Linked DNA regions of Homo sapiens: all the other regions are linked to region 1. The links come from fine-mapping of genetic effects on gene expression. A gene starts in region 1. Each other region holds a variant in brackets. All regions are shown on one strand. Distances are from middle to middle.

What was found.
Region 2: its variant is fine-mapped to the expression of NOS1 in substantia nigra (GTEx, PIP above 0.99).
Region 3: its variant is fine-mapped to the expression of NOS1 in thyroid (GTEx, PIP above 0.99).

The regions. Positions count from the first base shown.
Region 1 is chr12:117,356,652-117,365,080 of GRCh38, forward strand. NOS1 (nitric oxide synthase 1) reads right to left here and starts at 4,975. Exons shown (of 29, transcript NM_000620.5): 1 at 4,861-4,975. RefSeq lists promoters at 4,476-6,753, 4,476-4,636, 4,861-4,933, 5,100-6,021.
Region 2 is chr12:117,780,895-117,789,323 of GRCh38, forward strand. All of the region lies in intron 3 of KSR2 (kinase suppressor of ras 2), which reads right to left. Among named protein-coding and RNA genes, the nearest start is that of KSR2, 180 kb to the right of the region's middle. The variant C/T (reference allele first, on the strand shown) is at 4,073.
Region 3 is chr12:117,562,789-117,571,217 of GRCh38, forward strand. The region is part of intron 7 of KSR2 (kinase suppressor of ras 2); the gene reads right to left. Among named protein-coding and RNA genes, the nearest start is that of NOS1, 210 kb to the left of the region's middle. The variant C/A (reference allele first, on the strand shown) is at 5,048.

The DNA.
Region 1 (8,429 bases):
CTGCCGAACAGCCCACGATAACTGCTGTTCATCCTTAGCATCATACGACTGTGCCAAGACCCATGTCCACTATACCCTGTTAACCATACTTGAATTAGAGACTTAGGGGCACTTTCTGTTGACACGTCATTTTCATTTAAAAGATTCGAATGGGCTCAATTTTCCAGCATTGCCAGGTGCTGCTCATCATTCTTCCACCTTAAGAATGGGCATGTGAGCAACATAAACACACTTGCAAAGGCTGAGTGGAAGGCCGATGGGCTGTGGAAATGAACTCAAACCAATGGCTTTGGTGAAATCAGTGGTAGTTAAACTGGGTTTATTAGCTCTGTGATTACTTCTTTGCAGAAGTTATACCTGATAGGTCACTTATAAAAGGAATTTTTCTAGGCCTGGCGTGGTGGCTCACACCTGCAATCCCAGGACTTAAGGAGGCCAAGGCAGGCAGATGGCTTGAGCCCAGGAGTTTGAGTCTGGCCTGGGCAGCATGACAAAACCCCGTCTCTACAAAAAATACAAAAATTAGCCTGGTGTGGTGGCACAGGCCTGTAGTCCCAGCTACTCGGGAGGCTGAGGAGAGATGATCATTTGAGCCCAGGAGGTCGAAGCCCCTTCCCTCTGAAAGGGAGAGATCAAATAGTGGGGCTAATGTCCAAGATTAGATGGGAACTCAGGGCTGACACCCAGCAAGGTCAAGGTGGGAGGAATTATTTTCAGTCTCCTCTGAGCAGTTGGTCTAATTTAGAATAACAACCAGAAAGATGAAATTAAATTTCTTTAAAGTCCGGCATTTACGGGGCTTGTACTGAAGGAAACATGAAGTTATCATCGATGAGGATTGGACAATAAGTCAAGACACTGAGGTTCTATCCCAGCTTTGGCAGTAATGTGCTGTGTGACTTTCATCGAGTCACATGCCTCTTCTGGGCCTCAGTTTCCCAATTTGTACAACGAGGGTGACAGACAAGAACTGAGAGTATTAGAATCTCCTGGAGCAACCTTGTTAAAAATAGAGATATTTCCAGTCTCCCCCAGGAATGCTGATTCGGTAGATTTAGGGTGGGGTCTGGCATCTTTGCTTTTAACCAGGGACTTGCTGTATTCTGACACTAAAGGTCCACTGGGCTGATGTTTGGCGTTCGCTGGATTAGATGATGTTTAAATGTTATCATATATTAGAACGAGGAAAATGGTCATGTCTGTAACCTATGTGGTGTTAACTACACAAACCCACACTGATCCATGGCAGGAAACATGCCCCTCTGTTCAAACAATCCAGATTAAAATGGGTCCTGAAATGCCAAATTCAACTTCCACAAATTCCAGTTTCTAATGGGAAAAAGCCCCAGTTCTCACGAGCACGGATTGTTGCCTGTGGCTCTTAACCACATTCCAAGCCCCGCACAGACCCACAGAACCTGAGTGACAGGCAACACATGAAGTCTTGTCATAAGACACCCCAAAACATCTGCAGATTGTGAGCGCAACAGGCACAGCCAAACCTGTCTGTGCTCACAATATGCAGGCGAATTGACCTCCAAATCTTCCTGCCTCCTGGGAAATCAGCGGCCCCCCAGTGGGGAAGTTTCTGGACAACTGACTGAATGGTACCTCGGACAACTCTTTGCATCTTACTCACAGAGACCCACTGGGAGCAGCCTAACCCATCACAATACCCCCGCCCTCTCACTCTTCTCCGTGCGGTCCTTCCCCAAGGAAGATGGAGGCTCCTGGGGACTGGCTTTGGCCATTTGGGAAATATAAAGAGGAGACAGAAAGGGCAAAAAGCGGGCTGCTCTGAAAGCCACGATGACACTATTGGCCCCAAATGGCTCCATGGGACACTCTTCCCTCTGTTTCGGGTTCCCTTCCTTCCTTACAATCACCAGTCTTGGCATACCAGCATTGTTTCCAGAACCCCTTTCACATACATCATCACAGAGTCTTCAAAACAGCCCCGTGTGGGAGTTACTGTTCTCATTTTACAGATAACAGAACTGAAGCTCAGAAAGGTTAAGTGATCAACCTGAGGTCACACAGCCATGGAGTGAGCTAAGCTTGGCCTCAAGCTGAGGTCTTCACCAGGTCTCTCTACCACACTGCTCACTCTTTCTCTACATGATTTGGGACTTTGGGGAAAAAAATCACACAATTTGTGGAGACAAAGCCATGCCCCTGACCATAGCGTTGGCCTCTGGCTGAACAGATGTATCAGGAAATACAGCTGTGTGTGCTAAGGTTCAGGCACATGCCAGACTGCGTAGATGCCCAGATGCATGCAAAATGCCCCAATTAAGAAGCCGAAAATTGGGGTTGAGGTCTCGGGTAGTGCCACTTACCAGCTAGGTGACTATGGCTAGGTAGTTTGGTTTGCCCCACCTCAATTTCCGCAGCTGCAAAATGGAATTCAGATGGCTGCACTGGCAACCTGAAAGTTAAGAGGCTCCAGGTGAATAATACGTGTGACAGTGCCTTGGAGCTGTCAGTGGCAGAGCCGTGCGCCCCTCAGGGCGCTTCTGAAATCCAGACTAGTGGAAAGGGGCCGGGGCCCGCCGTGGCGGTGCTGGTGGGGCGGACACCCCCTCCTTCAGGGACCTGCCGAGGCTTCTCAAACCATCCGCTGAGATGCCTTGAGGGCGGAGAATGGACGCGACCCCTGCGCACTTGGGGAGCTGCCACAAGAGCCCTTTTCCTATTTTATCTTCAGTTCTGAAAAAATAACGGGGGAAAAAATCTATGCTCCAGAGAGCTGCGTCAGTGTTCCCTGGTGTTTACGAATTTCTTGCGTTTGCCCCGACCCCAATTAGAGAAGCACTAAAGAAAGGCAGCAATTTTCCCTCATTCCTCTCGGGAGGAGAGGTCTGGGGTCTCCTTTCTGCTGTCTCCCAATGTCGTGGGCCGCCAGAGGTGAGATGAGGCGCCTATGGGCGCGCTCGCCTGCACCGCACCCTTGCCTAGCGGCGTCCCTGGGGACCCTCCCTCCGTGGTGGCTGCGTGCGCGCTTTTCTTAGGCCTGAGCGCAGGGTTTGAGCTGGGCTATGGGAGTAGAGGGAAGAATCCCATGCGTCTTTCCCAGGATTACTGGGGTAGAGATGGAGGCGAGAGCAATCTTCCGCAGCCTGTAGTACCCTGTGGGGTAGACCCCCCGGTTCCTACTGGTGGGGAAACCCTAGACCTGCGTGCGAGTCTCCCAGATCCGGTCCCAGAGCATTACAATAATGGTTTTATATATATATATATATATATATATATATATATATATATATATATATATATATATATATCAGCAACACTTCCTGCGTTATGAACGCTTACCCTGACTTCATATTCACATTTATGATTTTTTAAGGTCCTCATGACAGCCCCACGAAAAAGGTAGTTTCTCCATTTTACAGATGAGAAACTGAGGCTGGGAAAGATGAAGAGACTTACCGAAGGTCACGCAACAAGTAAAGGGTCGATCTAGGACCAGAACCCAGGGGAGTCACTGGAAAGGTTCCTGCCCTCCTCGGCTGCCTTCTCCGTGAGAGCCTCTCCTCTCTAGATGTCTACCCCAGACAGCCTGATGCGGAGCTTGGAGAGCCATGAGCTCTCTGGTCACAGTGCCCTGGGGGTGGGGGCGAGCGTCTGGCGTCCTCTGGGGCGCAGTCCCGAGAGAGCCCCTTCCGGGACCTCGGACGCAAGGCCCCTGAGTGGCCCTGGAAGTTGGATCCCCCGGGGACCCTGCTCCGAACCCTGGCCACCTGGAAGCAACCTCATCGAGCGCTCCTTCCACTGCCCAGCCCCGAACCGTGGCGGAACGCGCCCCTCGGCCTCCCTAGAGCCTCCTTTGCGGGAGAAGCACAACTTTCCCAGGTTTTGGAGACGGCGCTCTTACACCCCAATCTCGCCCAGACGGAAGAAGTGAGAGGTGCGGGCGGCCCCGCCATGACCGCGGGAGGAGAGCGCAAGGAGGCTCCTCGCAAAGTTGGAGGCCAGGCCGGAGCGATGTTCCGGGAGCGGAGCCCTCCCAGCCTCGGGCCCCCAGCCGCGGACAGCTGGCAGTGCCAAAGACTCCGCCATTACCTGCGGCTCGCAGTTGCGATTCGGCCGCAGAGTCGGGCACCGAGGAAGGCGTAAAGTTGAGCTTGGGCAGGTACAACGGTCCCCAGGGACTGGCATCCCCCAGCCCGGGCTGCCCGCGGGAGGGTAGCGAGCTGTGCCAAGGGCTCCGCCATTACCGCCAGCGCACAGCTCGGAGCCAAGCGCGCGGCTGAGGAACGACTAGGGTCTTGCAAAGTTGGAGCCTGGGCGCGTAGACCCCCGGACCGGAGCCCCCGGCCTGAGGCCGCCCGCTAGGAGGAAAATGAGGCCGCCCGAACCAAGTTGGGACGCGCAGCAAAGCCCGAGCCTTCCGCGCACACCAGGGGCTCGGGCGGGAGCGGGGAGCCCTGGGGACGGAGAAGGGGCGCGGGACGCCTGGATCAGGAACTCACCTGACGCCGAGCCGGGCAGCGCCGAGGCTGCCTCTTCGCGCTGCGCACCCGCCCGCCCGCCTCGTACTCCTCCTCTTCCTCCCGGGCGCCCGCGGCCGCCGCGCTCCGGGTTCTGAATCCTCCGAGTCCGCCGCCCCGCGCGGCTGGAGGGCGCCGGTTGCACCCACTCGCCTCCTGGTAGGAGCCGCGCGCGTCCCTCCCCTTCCCCTCCGCTTTGTGCCTCCAAGATCCCTCCCCACCCCCTCTCCCCTAGCCCCCACTCCTCCCTTCTCTTCTTCCCTCCCCTTGCGTCCCCTCCCTCAGCCTCAGCGAACCCAAGTTCGGGACGGAGGCTGCGGGCTTCCCCGGCGCAGTGCTGGGCGCCCCGCGCGCGCCCCTGGCTCACCCCGTCCGCTCGGCCGCTGCTCGCTGCCCGGCCGCCCCTCGGAGGAGCCGCGGCGCTAAGTAGCTCCTCACCCAGCGGCTGGAAACGCGGCATAAATATGTAGGGACTGAGCCGTGAGCTCAGCGAGGGTCGTGAGGGGGAATTTATTTCTTAATGTCCCTCCTTTATCCTATCATCACTGAAACGAATTAGCAGTGACGTCCAACCCGACTGGTTTATGGGTGTGGGGAGGGAGACGTCGCAACCCTCATTAAAAGAGCCGCTCTGGGCTCCAAAGCATACATCTTTTATATAACCTAATTTCCATTTTTTTTTTTCTATCAGGAAACACACACACACACACACACACACACATACACACACACACACACACACACACACACACACAATGACAATTTCTGGGAGCCTGGATAGGGCTGAATGTAGTAGCCACGCAGGGCAGGGCAGGTCTATTTGGGCAGAGAAGGCCCCATGGGAGGCAGGGATGGTTATTTCTGCCTCTACATCAGTGTTGGGATAGCATTCCTTAATGGGACAGTGGAACACACAGCCTCCCAGGCTGGGCAGTGCTGGGAGCCCCTCCCAGGAGCCCGCAGAGGTTGCAGCCTGGGTTCTGGCCTTGGCTCTCGGGTGGACAGACGGAGAAAAGCAGCCTGTTCAGGAAATGTTGCCTGGTTCTGGTCTTTTCTGGAGCCACACTCAGGCCTGGCATCTGGGGAGAGTGAAGGATGGAGGGCACATGTTCATCTGTGGCCTGGGAGCCCCACAGGTGTGGAGAGGCCAAGGTCTGGGCTGGAGGAGGGAAGACACAGAGAACGCAGCTTCCCTTCCTTTCTTAGGGGCCCTAACATATGGGTAACCATATAAACCCGACTCAAAATCTGTCTTTTCCTGGGCAGATTGCAAAGGATTTTGCATCTCCCCGTTGCTGTTGCTGCTGCTCACACAGTCTTGGGAAAACGGGGGAAAATCAAGGAAAGAGAGGACACACACACGCGCACGCGCACACGCGCACATACACACACACAAACACACACACACACACACTTGGCACCTGGCTCTGGGTGATTTGATCTTTTCCTCCTCCCCAGCCTTGCCAAGCGGAGCAAACCCACTCAGGCTTCGAGTTGCGCAGAGAAGAGGCAAAGAGGAAAACCACCACCCCCTTTGTCACTAATAAATGCTTTTCAGATCGTCTTGCACATCCAGCAGGGGAGGGGGTGTGTGACTTTGGGGGCAGGAAGAAGGGTGTGGGGGATGAGGAGGGGAGGAAGGAATAAAGAATAAGCTGACGAGGGTGCCTGGAGGTCTATGCTGTCTTCCACATGCTGGAAGGAGGCCTGGAGAAATGCCACCAGCCCCAGGGCTCTGCCACTTCCTGGCTGCCACAAGGGCAAGTTTCAGAGCCTGTTTCCTGAGCCATGGATGGGCCTGGGGATGTCGTGAGGATATACACAATGAGATGATGCTGGTGAAGCCCTTGACATGGTGCTAGACATATAGTAAATGCTCAGGAAACAGTTGCCAACAATAATGGTGATTTTGATGATGATGAGAATAATCCAGCATACAGGCTGGATGGGGGGTGGGTCCCAGAAAATTGAGGCTGGAGCTGAGTCCTTGCAGTCTGGTCCCCTCCTGTTTTGGGTCCAGCGTCCCTTGCCCGAACCATTTCAAAGTTGAGCGCTGGGTTTCAGTGGTGTCATTCTCAGAACACTGCTCCCTCAATTACCATGGCAACTGGGGAAAATCAGGAAGCTAGGGGAAGGGAAGCTGCTCTTCCACTGGGCTGGCGGTTCACCTGCTCAAAACAGAGTCCACGTCTGCCTATGTGTGGGTCAAGGCCAAAAGAAGCTCAGAGTAGGGGCACTTCCTCTCTGGGAGCACAAGCTTTTTTGAAATTGGGGAGAAGGGTGGTTGGGAGGGGATGCACGGCCACGAGATGGTGGAGATAGTGGGGTCGGGCCAAGGCTGGCTGTGCCTGCAGAAGGCAGAGTTGGCTTGGGTTTGGGGAGAGGGGGACAGAAACCCCACTCCCCTCAGTTCTCTCCTCACTTCCAGGTGCCCTGGTGCGATTAAAAGCAAAGCCTTAGAATGTAGCTCTTGAGACAGAGATCTGGGAAGACAGAGCCTCAGAGCCCACGGGTGGAGCCAGGGACCATGAGGTGCCCTCTGTGTGTGTGTGTAGATGAGAGACGAAGACAGACAGACAGACACACACACACACACACAAACAGAGAGAGTCAGAGAAGAGAGAGAGGCAGAGAGATTTATAGACAAAGAGAGAGACAGAGACAGCAGAGACTGGCAGAGACAGTGAGAGACAGAGATAGAAAAACACACAGAAAGACTGGCAGAGAGAGAGAGATTGGCAGAGACGGAGATAGAAAAAACACACAGAAAAAGAGAGAGACGGAGAGATTGACAGGAAGACAGAGACTTATTGGCAGAGACAGAGAGAAAGACAGAGAAAACAGAGGGAGACAGATTGGCAGAAAGAGAGTAAGAGAAGAGAGAGGCAGAGGGATTTGCAGAGAGAGAGAGACAGATTGGCAGAGACAGAAAGAAAAAATACACAGAGAGACATATTGGCAGAGAGAAAAAGAGAGACAGAGTAAGAGAAGAGAGAGAGGCAGAGAGAGATTGGTAGATTGGCAGAGAGATTGGCAGAGAGAGAGAGAGATTGGCAGAGAGAGAATGGCAGAGACAGGAAAGAGAGACAGAGATACAGAGAAAGACGGACAGTGACAGACAGAGCCAGATACTTCCCTTCCCTCCCTCTGGTGGTTTCCCCAGGATTAACGGGAACTATGGACAACACTAGTTGCGGTAGTAAAGAGAACAATGGCCATCTTCTGTTGAGCACTTCCCATTTTGCTGGTTTTGAGCCACGCATTTAATAGGTATAACTCACTGAACCATCATAAAAATGGTAAGAAATGACTCCCTTTCTTATTCCCATTTTACAGAGGGAGAAAATAGAGGCTCTGGAGGCAAAGTGACTTGCTCCAGGTCACCCAGGTAATCTGTGGTAAAGCAGATATTAGAACTCGGGACCCCAAAGTGGAGCTTTTCCTGCCTCCTCGCCGCTGTCTTGTGGAGAAAGAGGGAGAGGGAGGATGTCAGAGCCATCTGGGGAGTGTCTAGGGTTTGGGGAGAGTGGCTCCTGGTGTTTGGGGACCCCTACCACATGAGTACGGACAGTGTCTCCAGAGATCCCCAGCAAGTGGAGGGAAGAGACTTTTACCATCAACCAGGTGGCCTTGGGACAGTCCCCAAAATGCCCCTTGGGTGTAGTGCCTTGGAAGCTGCTCTGGGCTGTCACAATAACCTGATTCCACCAGGACCTCTCTGGGGTTCAGGGGGAGATGAGGGTTGTGCCACCCTTCTCTCGAGCTATTGGAAGATCAAACCAGCTGAGACCCATCCAGGCATCAGCGTAGGGCAGGCACTTCATAAATGGTCACCGTGATAACAATTATTCTTGGTCCTTCTCTCAGGACCACACCCCTCAACCCCTGCATGGATGGTGGATGGGTGTAAAGGGTGTCCCTTCCCCCCCAGCCTCC
Region 2 (8,429 bases), 420 kb after region 1:
TGTAACCCAGAGCTGAGGGTTACGGAGAGGTTTCCTTAAGGAAGAACATTTGCACTGGGGTCTTGATATGCTTTGGCTGTGACCCCACCCAAATCTCACTGAATTGTAGCTTCCATAGTTCCCACGTATTGTGGGAGAGACCCAGTGAGAGGTAATTAAATCATGGGGGCAAGTATTTCCCATACTGTTCTCATGGCAGTGAAAAAGTCTCACAAGATCTGATGGTTTTATAAATGGGAGTTCCCCTGCACACGCTCTCTCTTGCCCACTGCCATGTAAAAAGTCCCTTTGCTTTTCCTTCGTCTTCCGCCATGATCGTGAGGCCTCCCAGTCATGTGGAATTGTGAGTCAATTAAACCTCATTCCTTTATAAATTACCCAGTCTCAGGTATGTCTTTATTAGCAGCGTGAGAACAGACTAATACAGGTCTGGAGGATGAGTGGCGGTTCATTAAGCAAAGAAAGAGGGACAAGTGTCCCAGCCAGAACCAGTCTGTCCAAAGATGTGATCCACCGGAGGAGGCTCAGAGTGGCAGAGGAGGTAGAGTGCAGATGATGGGGAGAGGGAAGGGGGAAAGTGAGGCAGAGAAGAGGTGGACAAGTCAAAGTGGAGAGCTGAGGATTTATCCAGAGGACAGTGCCATGTGCAATGTCATGGCACCAATGATCACCCCTCACGAACCAAACCCACTGCATTTGAGTTGTAAACTTGTCTGTGTCTTCAACTGGACGATGAATTCCTGATGCTCAGGGACCATGTCTTGGTATCTTCCATATCCTCAAACCATCTGAGCCCCTGGCACAAAATTTACACCAATAAATATTTTACTGGCTTGACCTAAGGAAGCCAACACAAATGAGTCCCCCTAGCAGTTAACCCTCCCTGGCACCCAGCCTGCCTCTGGAGCCCAAACGTCAGGTTGACAATGCTTCCAAAGGATATCTCTAAAAGGAGATGCTGCCGAACCCAGAGATAAAGAACAAATGCAAAACTAAAAATATCCCTGCAGGTCTAAACAATAATTAAACCGTTGAAACTGATAAAAAATCATCGGGTAAAGTGGAACTAAGCATGTTTAGATACTAGCAACAGAGATGTTCATGCTTAACATCGTTCCACCCCTAGTTACCAACCCTGTAGGGCAGTCTGATGCTGGGAGATAGGGTAGCAAATTCGAATTGTTCTGTTGATTATTCTTTCCACATGTCTTTATTGAGTGCATACTATGGAGCAGGTACTTTCTTTTGAGATGCTAGAAGCCTTGGTCAGCTTCTGGCCAATAGTATCTGGACCAGAACTCCCCTCCTGTATCTAGAGTAACTCCTCTCATACTGCAGCTGAATATCTTATTATCAAATGTTAATGAGGAAACTAACAGGTTTTTTTGAGACAGGGTCTCACTCTGTTGCCCAGGCTGGAGTGCAGTGGCACAATCATGGCTCACTGCAGCCTCAACCTTGTAGGCTCAACCGATCCTCCCACCTTGGTCTCCCGAGTAGCTAGGACTATAGGCGTGCACCACTACACTTAGCTAATCTTTTTTATTTTTTGTAGACACAGGGTTTTGCCATGTTGCTCAGGCTGGTCTCAAACTCCTGGACTCAAGTGATCCATCCACCTTGGCCTCCCAAAGTGTTGGGATTACAAGCGTGAGCCACTGTACCCAACCAGAAACAAATATTTTTAAAGTATCTACTATGTGCCACGAACTATGCTAGACATTTTGCGAGTACCACCTCATTGTAATTCTCACAGCAACACTGTGGGGTAGACTCTATTCTTCACAAAGTATATATGAGATTCTAGGGGTCTGTGTTTTACATGTTTTAAGCTACAAACCTCCTAAGTGAAAAAGCCAAAATTTGAACCCAGAGTTCCTCTTATTTCTCGATAAGGGAGAAGTGAGAAAAGTTCAACTTGAGCAAGAAAAAGAAGAAAACAGGAAAGGCTGTAGGGTAAGAATGGGACCAGGACATCTAGACCCCTCCGCCCCACATAGCAACATCCTGTGGGTAGAATGGGGGACTACACATAATAATCGCAAAAAATGCTCATGGGTTTCTAAAAGAAACAACAAAGTAAGATCCATGGTGTTTAAGGATAAAAATGGTTTCACCAAGGACTGAACTTAATAAATATTTACTGAGCCCTACCCTATGTCAATTGCTTTGCTGTCAGCATTCAATATCCAAGGAAAAAATAAAAATGACAATGATCATGATCACCCTTTTTTGGAAAGTGTACCGTGTGCCCAACACTATTCTAAATATTATATGTATATTACCTAATTCAACCCTTACAACGGCACTACAAGGTAGTTATTAATATTTTCTTGATTTCATGGATGAAGGACAAGGTGGATGTAGCCCCTGACCCCAAGGGTCCCATAGTGGAATAGGGGAGATAAGGCAAGCAAGGAAACAGCCTCTGCATCATGTCAACGCATTGAGCAAGGTGCCAAGTAGCACGACAACAGCAATCGGGTGAGGGCTTAGATCCTGATTCACTTATCAGAGCCTCTGTTTCCTCATCTGTAAAATGGGGATAGTGTCACCCACCTCATAGGATTGTTTTGAGGGTCTAGTGATTTTATACTTAAAAAATACCCATCCCAGTTTTGGCTCTGGCCATGATAGAGCAAGCCCACCAAAGCCTATCTTTCCCAAAAATTCTGGGAAAAAAAATGGAAAAGGCAACAACCTGAGGATTCCTACAAGTCAATGACAGCAGGTGGGTAGGGCAGGGGAGTCCACATCTGAAGCATGGCCATTATGGCGGTGGTGAGTTTCCTTCATCTGTCAGTTTTGGCCAAAAGTTGGCAGGATTTAGGAACTGTGCTTTGGAAATGAGGAGTAAACACTTCAGAGTATCCCATATTTCTGGCCAGAGGACCAGGAAAGGAAGATCTGTGAGTAGGAGAGTATGGGCAGAATCCTTGGGGTTTTTATGTGTGTGTGTCTTTTTTCTATCCCAGCCATGTCCCAAAATCAGCCCAGACACAAAACTGCACTCATATGACACAGAAACAGCACAGGCACCAAAGCCCCCAAAAGATATCCCATTCCTTTGGACTGAGAAGCTCAGAATAGAGGCCAATGTTATGTGAATAAGGTAAGGAAGAGTACATGAGAATTTTTTTTAATTTTTTAATAATTTTAACTTTTGTTACGGATTCATGGGTACATGTGCAGGTTTGTTACAGGGGTATATTGTGTGATGCTCAGGTTTGGGGTATGAATAATCCCCATCACTCAGTGATATGGCTTGGCTGTGTCCCCACCCAAATCTCACCTTGAATTGTCATAATCCCTACATGTCAAGGCCAGGGCCAGGTGGAGATGATTGAATCATGGGGGCAGTTTCCCCCATACTGTGTCTCATGGTAGTGAGTAAGTCTCACGAGATCTGATGGTTTTATAAATGGGAGTTCCCCTGCACAAGCTCTCTTGCCTGCCACCATGTAAGACGTCCCTTTGCTCTTCCTTCCTCTTCTGCCATGATTGTGAGGCCTCCCCAGCCACGTGGAACAGTGAGTCCATTAAACCTCTTTCCTTTATAAACTACCCAGTCTCACGTATGTCTTTATTAGCAGCACGAGAACAGGCTAATACAGTCAGGTAATTAGCACAGTACCAAATAGGGAGTTGTTCAGCACTTGCTCCCTCCCACTCTCTCCCATCTAGTGGTCCCCAGTGTCTGCTATTTGCATCATCTTTAAGTCCATTGCACCCATGGGTTTTTTTCTCTCTCTTTTCTCTCACCACTTTACCGCCAATGAGAAGGCCAGTCATTCAGATCTGTGCAACAAGACAAGAGGCTAAAACTCTAACAGAACCCTATCTTTTTGGCCAAAAGAACTGGAGAAAGAGGCCCCTGAAAGCCAGATAATGTGCAAGTTATCTCCAAAAGAAAAGAACTGGAGGAGAGCCCTAATCTGTGTGTGAAATGCTGCCCACACTTGGAATAAACCCTAAGAAGCATGGCAAAGGCTTTAGGAACTCAACTGGCATTGGAGCACCACCTATAGAAGACAAGACAGCACCGACAGTCTGACTCTAACCAGACTACTGA[C/T]TGCTTAAGAAAAACAAAACAAGCAAACCAAAAATCAATATTCTCCAGAAGGAAACCCAGAGTCTCACAAAAATATTCAAAATCTCCAGGAGATACTCCAAAATTGCGTGATATGCCAAAGACCAGGAAAATCCTGACCAATTTTCAAACGCAAAAGCAATCAACAGGCTGGGCATGATGGCTCACGCCTGTAATCCCAGCCCTTTGGGAGGCCAAGGCAGGTGGATCACCTGAGGTCAGGAGTTTGAGACCAGCCTGACCAATATGGTGAAACCCCATCTCTACTAAAAATACAAAAATTAGCTGGGCATGGTGGCGGGTGCCTGTAGTCCCAGCTACTTGGGAGGTTAAGACAGGAGAATTGCTTGAACCCGGGAGGTGAAGGTTGCAGTGAGCCAAGATCCTGCCACTGCGCTACAGCCTGGGCAACAGAGTGAGACTCCATCTCAAAAAAAAAAAAAAAAAAAAAAAAAAAAAGCAATCAATAGGTAGCAACACTGAGATGAGCCAGATATTAGAATTACCAGACATAAACTTTAAAGCAGGCATTATGACCATGCTCCATAAGATAAAGGTAACCACTCTTGAAATGAAAAGATAGCAATTTTCATAGAGAAACAGAAGCTATTAAAAAATAACCAAATGAAAATTTTGGAATCGAAAAATACACTATCCAAAATTCATTGGAAAATGTTCTCATTTACTGGATGAGCTCAATATCAAAACGGAGATGACAAAGGAAAGAGTCAGTGAATGTGAAGTTAGGTGAATAGAAATTATCAAATCCAAAGAACAGAGAGGAAAAAAGATTGATTTCTTTAAAAAAGCCCCAAGGAGCAATTAGAGAATATCAAAAGATCTAACATTCAAAAGATCTAACTGGAGAATTAAGAAGGATTGGTGCAGAATAAAAACAACAAAAAACAAAACAAAACTCTTAAAGACATAATGGCTGAAAATTCCCAAATTTTGTGAAAAACATAAATTCACAAATTCTAAAAGCTCAGCAAACCCCACATAGGATAAACTCAAAGAAAACCACGCCTAGGCACATCATAATCAAACTGTTGAAAGCCAAAGAAAATCTTGAAAGCGGCCATTAAAAAAACAATAATGATGCATTATAGATAAAAGGACAACAACTTGAATGACAGGAGATTTCTTATCAAGACTATGAAAGACAAGTTACTAGAACATCTTTTTTTTTGCAGATAAATTTTGACATTTATTCCATTTTAACAACATTTAAGAAAGAAGTATATTTTTTCAATCGTATTTTCCACTTTTTACTAAGCAGGCATTCAAGCTGTCCCACTCACTCATATATTACCCATGATACTAACATATTTTTTATTTTTTTTATTTTTTAAACTTTTATTTTAGGTTCAGTGGTACATGTGCAGATTTGATGTATAGGTAAACTTGTGTCATGGGAGTTTGTTGTACAGATTATTTCACCACCCAAGTACTAAGCTTAGTACTCAATAGTTCTTTTTTCTCATCCTCTCCCTCCTCCCACCCTCCACCCTTAAGCAGACCCTAGTATCTATTTAGAACAACATCTTTTGGCTGGGCATGATGGCTCACGGCTGTAATCCCAGCACTTTGGGAGGCCGAGGCAGGCAGATCCCCTGAGCTCAGGAGTTTGAGACAAGCCTAGCCAACATGGTGAAACTCCGTCTCTACTAAAAATACAAAAATTAACTGGGCGTGGTGGTGGGTGCCTGTAATCCCAGTTACTCAGGAGGCTGAGGCAGGAGAATCACATGCACCCAGGAAGCGGAGAATGCAGTGAAACGAGATCGCACCATTGCACTCCAGCCTGGGCAACAAGAGTGAAACTCACTGAGGTCGGGAGTTCGAGACCAGCCTGATCAACATGGAGAAACCCTGTCTCTACTAAAAATACAAAATTGGCCAGGCGTGGTGTTGCAAGCCTGTAATCCCAGCTACTCGGGAGGCTGAGGCAGGAGAATCGCTTGAACCCAGGAGGTGGAGGTTGCCGTGAGCCAAGATCACGCCACTGCACTGCAGCCTGGGTAACAAGAGCAAAACTCCATCTCAAAAAAAAAAAAAATTATGTATATCAGCTCTCAGCTCAAACATCAAGCTTCCTTCCTAGACCATCTCATCTGAATTTGTCCCTACCCCACTACTCTCTGCCACTGCCTGTCCACTCAGCACAAGTTTAAAGTGTGTATTTATGTGTTTATATGATCATTGCTCTTCTCCCTTAGAGACTGTAAGGTCTGTGCAGATCAGTTTGGTCTTGTTCAGTCTTGGCTCTGTAGCATCTTGTGGGATACCAGGCACAGAATGGATACTCAAATGTGCATGGAATGAATGAGTAAATGGGTAAATGAGAGATAAGAAGAAAGCCAGTAGGCCAGGAGCAGTGGCCCACATCTGTAATCCCAGCATTTTGGGAGGCCACGGCGGGCGGATCATCTGACGTCAGGAGTTTGAGATGGGCCTGGCCAAGATGGTGAAACTCCGCCTCTACTACAGATACAAAAATTAGCCGAGCACAGCGGCACATGCCTGTAATCCCAGCTACTCGGGAGGCTGAGGCAGGAGAATTGCTTGAACCCAGGAGGCAGAAGTTGCAGTGAGCCGACACTGCGCCACTGCACTCCAGCCTTGGCAACAGAGCGAGACTCCATCTCAAAAAAAAAAGAAAGCCAGTTAATTGGTTGGTCAAAGCAAAGTGCAAATATAGTTTAGGAGTGGAAGGGTAAGTAAACCACGTGGCTAGGCACAAGAAGGAGCTTTCAGATGAGCAAAACCACTGGACTCACCAAAGCAGACTAACCAGAAAGACTGTGTGATCTCCCCCAGATCTTTATTAACAGGATGAACTGCCATCTGTCTCAGATAGATGAAGTAGAGATAAACTACACCACACCAGAAAATTCTTGAGATACCTTTCAACTCAATAATAAACATTTGCTCTTTGTAATCACTCTTTGAAACTGTACGTGGGAAATAAGCAATTTTAAAGAAGCAATTTCTAAATACTTCACTAGCTAAAAAAGTCAGACCATGTCTATGGGATGGGAACCAGAAAGGAGAAGTCTTGGAAAGAGATGGAGAATGAACAGCTGTCTTCCTGCTGCTGTCAGGCAGAAGGTGAATTAGACTTGTTCTAGGAGGTTCCAGGACTCAGAGGTAAAACCAAGAGGAAATTAAAGGAAAACAGATTTAGCTTACTGTAAGGCAAATGCTAATAGTTACCAAGATCTCCTCTGAAACAAAAGAAATGAATGACTTCATAAGGTCAGCAACTCCCTGTATCTAGAAGACTTGGAGGAAAGGCTGAATAACCAGAAATTTACAGAAGGTAACTTCAAATTGTCCACTTGCTGGGAGATTGGACTAGATCTGTGTTTTCCAAACTGTACCATGGGATATGAGTCCTGAAAGGAAATCTGAAAAAGACTGCATGCTATAACCCTCCCCTGGAGATTAAAAAAGCACATTAGCATATTATAAGCTTTGAAAAATCCTGCAGGTAGGACTTGAGCTCCAATGTTGTACAGAACACTTTTTTTTTGAGACAGAGTCTCACTCCATTGCCCAGGCGGGAGTGCAGTGGCATGATCTCAGCTCACGGCAACCTCTGCCTCCCAGGTTTAAGCATTTCTCCTGCCTCAGCCTACCAAGTAGCTGGGATTACAGGTGCGTATGACCACGCCTGGCTTTTTTGTTTGTTTGTTTTGTATTTTTAGTTGAGACAGTGTTTCACCATGTTGGCCAGGCTGGTCTCAAAATCCTGACTTCAAATGATCCACCTGCCTTGGCCTCCCAAAGTGCTGGGATTATAGGTGTGAGCCACATTGCCCGGCCTCCAGAACACATTTCAAATGACCTGGACTAGAAGACAAAGCTGATCTTCTCAAGTTGAATATTCTATGATTCTCTCTCCATTAAAAAGGAAGCTCTAGGCTAGTGGATCTCAAACTTGAGCATGTATCTGAATTCCCTGGAGAGCTTATTAAAACAACGTTAGGCTCCACCCCTAAGTTTCCCATACCTGGGATCTGGGGTGAAGTCTGAAATTTTGCATTTGCAACAAGTTCTCAGGGGTTGCTGTTGCTGCTGGTCCAGTGATCTCACTTTGCAATTTGTCTAGACTTGGAGATTAAGAACGTTCAGGGTTTGAAAAACTTGAAGTTGCTAAACTTCGTACATCTCACTGCAAATTAGTCTCCAAGCACCTATAATTCTGACCTTTTCTTCTCACTCCGTAAAATGGTAGGTGGATGCCTTCTGTAAGGCAAAAGAGAAATCTGATCCTTAATGAAGTAGATACAGTCTGCAAAGCCCTCTCCTGTCAGTAATTGTGACCAGAGAAGAC
Region 3 (8,429 bases), 210 kb after region 1:
CACTCTTCCTTCCAGCCAGGGGCTTCGGTGGGCAGCATTAGCAGTGGAAACACAGCCTTGCTCATGCAGAAAACCCCAAGGGAAATATCTCCAATGCCCAGGCACTTAAACCTTGCACTTAGGTTCAGATGTCAAGAACGAGAGCCTGCACATCCCGGATCTGCTAATAGAGTCGGCAGGATTAGACAAACCCTGAAATTACACAGACTCTGGAGACAGAGGGAAGAGGGACCACAGCAAGGTTTTGCAAAGCACACTATGTCCCTCTTAATGGAAACTGTTCTTCCAGCTGGAAATGTGCATCATTTTCCCAAAATGTGGCTTTTCCTTTTCCCTACCCATGGAAGAAAGAGCTACTAGCGTGTAATTTACCAGGAGACCACCTGCTTCAAAATTAGATTCCCAGGCCTCACTCTCCAAGGTCCTGATTGGGTAAGTGTCTTTTGGGAATGCAAATTTTAAGCAAGCACACGTGAAACTCGAGAACTACCATATCAGAGGAATACATTCTACTTCCCAGATGAGAGATGAATGGGAGCCTGAATCTTTCGGAATACAATGTTCTCCTCCGAAAGGAAAATGGGGAAAGTATATAGAACAAACCTAGGTTCAAATCCTGATACCACCACTCCCTGGCTGTGATAACTTGGGCAAGCTGCCGATCCACTCAGAGCCTCAGTTTCCCCATCTGTAAGGTGGGGACAATTGTAGCCTCTTGCCTCTCTGGGTTGCAGTGAGGACTAATGATATAATGCAAGTAAGGTGCCCAGAACAAATATTTGGCACACAGTAGAATCTCAAGCAGCGGCAGGTGCTATCTTTATTATGGTAGTTACCATAATTATTGCTAGTTTGTGCAGCAGCTTTCTACAGCAAGCCCCTAAGATCCTCTGCTGGAGGACTTTCTCTGGCTGGAAACATGGGCTGGCTAGAACACTTGGAGACCTCAACCAACTATAGGTGGGCGTTGGTTGATGGATATTCCAGCCCCCTCTCTCATGGGTGGCATGACCCAGAGGCATGCTCATTTTAGGACTGCACCCCAATCCCCCCAAGCACCTGCTCTTTGATGCACCCATTACCAGCTGCCTTAACTCTCTGTCTCACTTCCCCATTCCTCTATTGGTGTGGCCTGGGATCACCTCTCAAATAAACCACTTGCCCTCACATCCTTGTCTCTGGGTCTGTGGAAACAGGGAGCCCAATTAAAACACCAGGATTATTAACAGAAATTCAGAGCATGAACGTGGCCTTCCCCATGGCTCTCACACCAAAACCCTTGGCTCCTCATGCTGTCAGTCCCTAATGAATTTGGTTCTCCAGGTGCTCCATTCCCGAAGGAGGAAGGGAAGAGGTGAGGTGGACACAACAGACTGCCCCCAGTAACGTGAAAGAAGGCAAACCTCCACACCAGATATGGGCCAGGAGGAGCCCCATGTTTCAAGATGGTGGGTCTGAAGGATTCCCAGGCACCAGGGAAGGTCCTATATGGTTCCAGAAATGGTCAAAAGTTTGCACTTTGCAATCAAGCCGACCTGAGCCTGAATCACAGGTCTGCCCTTCCTGGCAGGGCAAGACAGCATCTAATGAGAGAATGTCTAAGTAGTACCACATAGGCACCAAATAGGTCAACGCTTTAGCAGGCAGGGATATGACCCACTCTGAGCACACACAGAAAAAGCCTGCAAACTTGGAAAGGATTTATTTAAAACTTTCATGGCAAATAGTTAACTTCTTTTTTCTTTTAACTTCTAAGGTTTAATAGGATAAGCTTCAGTTATCAGGAAAAGTTGCTTACGAGGAACATCTCATTCCCCCAAGGGAGTTGCTGGCTAAATGAGACATCATCTCTGTCTGAATATTAAATATGTGAATTTATCTTGAGGGCAGAATCTAGGTCTCCCTCATGTGCTACCTCCCTTTCCTTTCCTCCTTCATTGAAAGGTGCCTGGTGTGTATTATCTGGTGGGTAAGTATCAGAGAGATGGAGGGAAAGAGGAGGAAAGAAAAAGAAGAACAGGCAGAAGGGGAAATCTGTCAAACACTGCAGATTTAGAAACATTCTAATCCCTATCAAAACGTTTTTGAAAGGCTATTTCTATTTCTTATAAATCGTATCCCTCTTTGTTTGTGAAATGCAATGATGCCCCCTCTGCATTTCCTTCTTTCTTCCCTCCCTTCTTCCCAGTGCGGGGCTGGAGGGCAGGATTTGACCAGAAGCAAACTGGATCTCCATGGGAACTGCGGGGGACAAATGGTCTCTTTCACAAGCAGCTCTGCTGTTTTCTTGAAAGATGTGTCATGGCCCCCTGTGAAGCAGTCATAAGCCTAGAGCCTGGCACAGAGCTGGAATCCAAATGCTGGCGTTCACAGGAGGGACAGGCAAGACCCCTCCTAGGGAAGACTGTCACGTCAATTTCTCACTGTTCATTGGGCGATTCTAACCAACGGATGAAAATTTGCTCCGATCAGCTTCGATCTCTCATTTCTCCTATTTTTTCTTGTTCCATGCCAGCTAACTTTACAATAATCTGTCTGACTAGGGCCCAGTCTTTCCTTCCAGAGTGCACATGGAACATTTTAAAAACCTGGCTCCTAATATCCAATTGAGGAAACATTAAACAAGCACAAACTTTGAGCCAGGTGCTAAATTACACAACCCATTTCCCCTGAACAGCAATCTCTTAAGAGGTGTATATTGTTACACCCATGTAATATGTGAAAAGTACTGAACATCTAGCTTTTGTTGGCTTACTTTTGTTAATAAAATAGTGGATATCAGTTTATATATGGCTATGGAATCACAATATTGACAATGAGAATAGGAATAATAATTATTTCCCTTTACCATGTGAGATAAACTGTGTGAAATGTTTTACATATATTTTAACCCTTATTAGATTCTGTTGGAGATAACTTATCTGTTTGTTTACTCTCACTGCAGATCTAATACATTCATTTTGCTCATTCATTCTTCAGAAAACAGAAGTGATAAATCCTCATTGATGTGGCCCCATTGTGTAGTCATGTGTAATCATGTGATATATAATTCTAAGTCTTCTATGTGCATGGCTTTAAAACCTCAATTCAAGTTTCAGACTGCAATCAAGTTTAAGACTTGAAGTTTAAGACTCTTTTTAACTGTTACTTTTCCCCCCAGTATTTTCTTTTGCTTTTTCACTTTTATTTTAGGTTCAGGGGGACACGTACAGGTTTGTTACATAGGTAAACTCATGTCGTGCCACGGGGATTTGTTGTACAGATTATTTCATCACCCAGGTACTAAGCCTAGTACCCAGTAGTTATTTTTTTTTTTTGCAACCTCTCCCTCCTCCCACCCTCCTTGCTCAAGTAGGCCGCCATGTCTATTGTCCCCAGGCTGAAGCGCAGTGGTGCAATCTCAGCTCACTGCAACTTCCGCCCCCAGTTCGAGTGACTCTCCTGCCTCAGCCTCCTGAGTAGCTGGGATTACAGGAGTGCGCCACCACGCCTGGCTAATTTTGGTATTTTTTGTAGAGACAGGGTTTCACCATGTTGGCCAGGATGGTCTCAAACTCCTGACCTCACGTGATCTGCCTACCTTGGCCTCCCAAAGTGCTGGGATTACAGGCGTGAGCCACTGCGCCTGGCCTGCCCCCCTCTTTCTGTCTATGTGTTCTCATCATTTAGCTCCCACTTATAAGTGAGAACATGTGGTATTTGGTTTTCTGTTCCCGCATTAGTTTGCTAAGGATGATGGCCTCCAGCTCCATCCATGTTCGTGCAAAGGACATGATCTCGTTCTTTTGTATGGCTGCATAGTATTCCATGTATACCCATTTTTAAGTCAAGAAGACTGGGGTCCAGTAACAAGCTCAGTCATTCAGATAGTGATGGGCAGAATTGGGACAATTCATCCCTGCATGCCCACAAGAAGACACTGTGTTCCTCCTCTGTGCCAAGGGCTATGCTAGGCACTGGAGGTATAATAATTAAATAAGACAAGAATTCTTTCTTTAAAGATCTTGCAGTCTAGCAAGAAATTTACTGTCCAAGAATGTAAACCCATCTCTTGTGGCTTCAAGCATGAACATCTCTCTACTCATCCTACTGCGCCCAAATTGCCTCTTATAAATGAGCCCAGCTGGATTTGAACCAGATTTGGGGAGCTTATATTGTCAAGAACCGCTCTCTCTGCAGAGGTCCCTACTGAGATCTACTCAAGCAACAAGTATTTACTGAGCATTTACCATGTGTGCCAAGCACTGTGCTGGCGCTAGAGGTTTAAACAGTGAACCGTCCAGAAATGAGATGGCCCTGCCTTCAAAGAGTTTAAAGTCTGGTCAGGAAGACAGGCAGGTAAATAGACAAATAAAACATAGTAGTATGTAATATGGTGTGACAGAAAAGGGCAGAAGGTGGCACTTCAGATTTGAGGGGAGTCAGGGAAGGCTTCCCGGAGGGAAGTGGTGGCTGAGCTGAGCTTGAAAGATAAATGAGAGCCAGCAGAGGTGTGCAAGAAAGATCCAGGCAGTAGCAATGGGGTGCAAAGACATGTCAATGAGTGGGCACATGACCTGCCACGGGGATTGATGGCTCGGAGAAGCTGCAGCTCTGGGCATGAAGAGGGGAGAGATGCGAGGGGACAGAGGAGTAAGCAAACATGGCGCGCGGTCTCGTCATGAAGTTGGATTTCGCCGAGAGCAAGGGGGAGCTAATGAAGGATTTTAAACAGGGAGGGGAATGCTGGCTAAGCATTTTGAAAAGACACCCTCTGGCAGCAGAAACTTGCAATTAAAGGGCAGCAAAGTTCCCCTCTCATTATCTTCCCTACTCTCTGTACCTGCTTTCCTTTTCCAGGTCACTGCATTAAGTGTTCCTGAAGGCTTCTCGCAAAAAAAAAAAAAAAAATCACGAAACCGAATCCTTGCCCCCTTTGCAGCAGGGCTTGGTTCACTGCATACCCCAACTGAGCATTCTGGTCTCATGTGAGTTCCCCTGTGGTCTCTTGTTTGAGCCAATGCTTCTAGAAATGACTCCGTACGCTCCAAGTGCAGGATATCAAAAC[C/A]AAAAGTGCAGGTTCACTGCATACCAACTGAGCATTCTGGTCTCATGTGAGTTCCCCTGTGGTCTCTTGTTTGAGCCAGTGCTTCTAGAAATGCCTCCGTATGCTCCAAGTACAGGATATCAAAACACCCTTTCCCTCACTGCTAACAACTCAGTGGGGTCTAGCTCTTTAGCCTATAGCTAACCACAATACAAATGAGCAAAGGGCGGTAGGAAGTATTGACATATAAATCAGACCTCGGGTTCCAAGGACATCATGAAAAATCACCAGGAACCCCCAGCACTTTTCTCTCCATAAAAGGACACTGTAAGGGAAGCTGTAAATGTATTACTTGCTGTACCCTCCCTCCTCTCCTCTCCCTCGCCTTCCCTGAAAAAGAAGAAAGCGACTGTAGAGTCTTCTTGGCTCTCTGAACCCAGAGGTGTTCATCAGAACACAAAGATCCATTTGTCATCTTTCAATTCAAGAAAGGATGATGGGAGCATGTGGCAGGCTGGGGGAGGGATGAGGAAAAGCTTTGGTCCAGGTTGGAATTGAGACCAAATTCTTATACTCTGTTCTGCTTGTTTAGTTAAAGGGCAAGCAGAGTGACATGTAGCATTTATTGCCGGCCTGCTGTGTAGCCAGCCCTTTGCCCGTGTAAAGCGGTTAAAAGTCTGGGATCGTGAATCTGAGCGATCAGTGGGTTTGAGTAACAGATCCACACACCGTGACACTTCGAGCCGGCTGTTTACTTCTGAAGGCCTCTGTTTCCTCGTCTGTAAAATGGGGGTAATAATAGACCCTACTTTCCATAGTTGTGGCAAGGATTAAATGAGATCATGCATGTAAAGTGTTTAGCAAAATGTCTGGCACCTGGGTGAGCCCCCAATACATGATAGCATCATCATAATTATCATCATCATTATCACATCTAATCCCACCTCAGCCCCCAGTAGAATTATAAGCATCCCTCAGATACAACTATAATTAGACCTAAATTTTTGCTTATCATAGGTAAAAACGCATATATAGGATGATTAACTCCCATTATAATTATTGCAAAAACTGAAGTGTTTCTATTAATAGAAAAGTAAGTTCAAGATTCAAGCTGGTGATCTCTGAAATACTTGCTCATAATTATATCCTGCCAATATCCTGCCTGTTGTACAAACTCCCAAAGCTTCCAGGAACTTCGCAGCAGCTGCGACATCAGCACTCATCATTTCCCCACTTTTTAAGGTCTGGGTAAATTAGTGCAATGGTGGCTCAAACCAGCCATGGCTTACTTCACACTTTTATCTCCTCATCACCTGTGGCTGCAGCGATTTTGCAAAAAAATTGGACATTTTTAGGTAAAATATATTTTGTTGCAAGAACATAGGAGAGCAGAATGCACAGGGCAAGAGAGAAAATCAAGATGTGCTTGGTTTTGCTGTGTTATTTGACATTTTCACTTGGATTTTGATGTGTACAAACCCAAGTGAAAAGATCCACTAACACGGCAAAAGTCAATTGAGAAGTGCATGGCTTATTTAAGTAAAAATTATTAAAGTGACTGTTTACATAAAAAGAAGTAGGTACAAGCATGTCTGGCCAGCCACTGCAGGCAGGAGGAAAGAGGACTCGTATAAAGGCCATGAAAACACCACTGAAATACACTGGAAATCTTGTGCTGGTTAACTCAGGCTTCCAAACACCATGTCTTACCTTACTAGGGGAACGAACATGGGTCTCACTCCTACAGAAGTGGGCAGTAACCTCAACTGGAACATAGGAACATATAAAATGTCTTTAGTTAGTAAAGACCTACGTCTATTGTAAGGTGGCTAACCTAGGCCTGACCGAAGGGTTTCTAGGCACTTGGGAATCTCAGTGCTAAACCTCAGAAAGTCCCAGGCAAACTGGGATGGTTGATCACCCCCTTGTATAATAGGGATTATAATGCCTATATCACCCTATAACTATAGAGTGGATCACCCTGTAGTTCACCCTATAACCTGAAATATATATAAGGATTCACCCTATAAGTTGACTGTTTGAGTAATGAGTCCAAGCACAGGTCAAGCAACTGCAAGTTCACATTCTAAAACTGAATAATGCACACCATAGCCCCATGGCGTAGGAATGAGTAGCTCTCTCCTGGGGGCAGTTTGGACCCCCAGGGAACATTTGGCAATGTCTGCAGACTTTTTTTTTTTTTTTTGAGACAGGGTCTCGCTCTGTTGCCCAGGCTGGAGTGCAGTGGCGTGATCCCGGCTCACTGCAAGCTCCGCCTCCCAGGTTCACGCCATTCTCCTGCCTCAGCCTCCCCAGTAGCTGGGACTACAGGCGCCTGCCACCGCGCCCGGCTAATTTTTTGTATTTTCAGTAGAGACGGGGTTTCACTGTGTTAGCCAGGATGGTCTCAATCTCCTGACCTTGTGATCCGCCCGCCTCGGCCTCCCAAAGTGCTGGGATTACAGGCTTGAGCCATCTGCAGACGTTTTTGATGGTCACAACTGGGAGTGAGGAGGGGGTGCTACTGGCATCTAGTGGGTAGAAACTGTAGATGGTGTTAAACATCCTCCAACGACAGGACAGCCCCCACAACAAAGAATTATCTGGCCCCAAATGCCAATAGTGCCAAGGTTGAGAAAAACTGAAATAAACCCTATAACATGTCTTCCAAGAAGTTGGCTGATTCAGAAAATTCTGAAGGAAAAGCAGAGAACAAGAACTACAGAAAAGGCGAAAATGGGCTAAAATTTTCCAGAACTTCGATGTTGCTTCAACCCATGGAAGCGATTTAGTGGGTCTGTTTCTTTTTATACTTTGCATTCATATAAAGTCGGGTTTTGCAACGAAATAAATGCTGAACAACGTATTTAAAGATTCTAATTTGAAAGAATTCTCAAGTCATTATTATCGGGGCATGAACATATCTCATCACATGGAATGAATGTGTTAGCCTCACTGTGTATCAGAGAGGTTTAGAAACCTTCCTAGAGTCACACAGCGAGGGAGTGGCAGGGCCAGGACCTGAACTCAGCTCTCTCTCTGCAGTCTGTATCCTTGCTGTTGTTTCACTGTCATAAGTTGAGTTTTGTAGAAGCAGATCCTGAAATGAATATTCTTGCAAATGATTTATTGAGGGAGTATGCTCAGAAGAAACCTATTCCAGCCAGGCACGGTGGCTCATGCCTGTAATCCCAGCACTTTGGGGAGCCGAAGCAGGCAGATCACTTGAGGCCAGGAGTTTGAGACCAGCCTGGCCAACATAGTGAAACCCTGTCTCTACTAAAAATACAAAAATTAGCCGGACATGGTGGTGGGCACTTGTAATCCCAGCTACTCAGGAGGCGGAGGCGGGAGAATTGCTTGAATCCGGGTGGTCGAGGCTGCAGTGGGCCGAGATCATGCC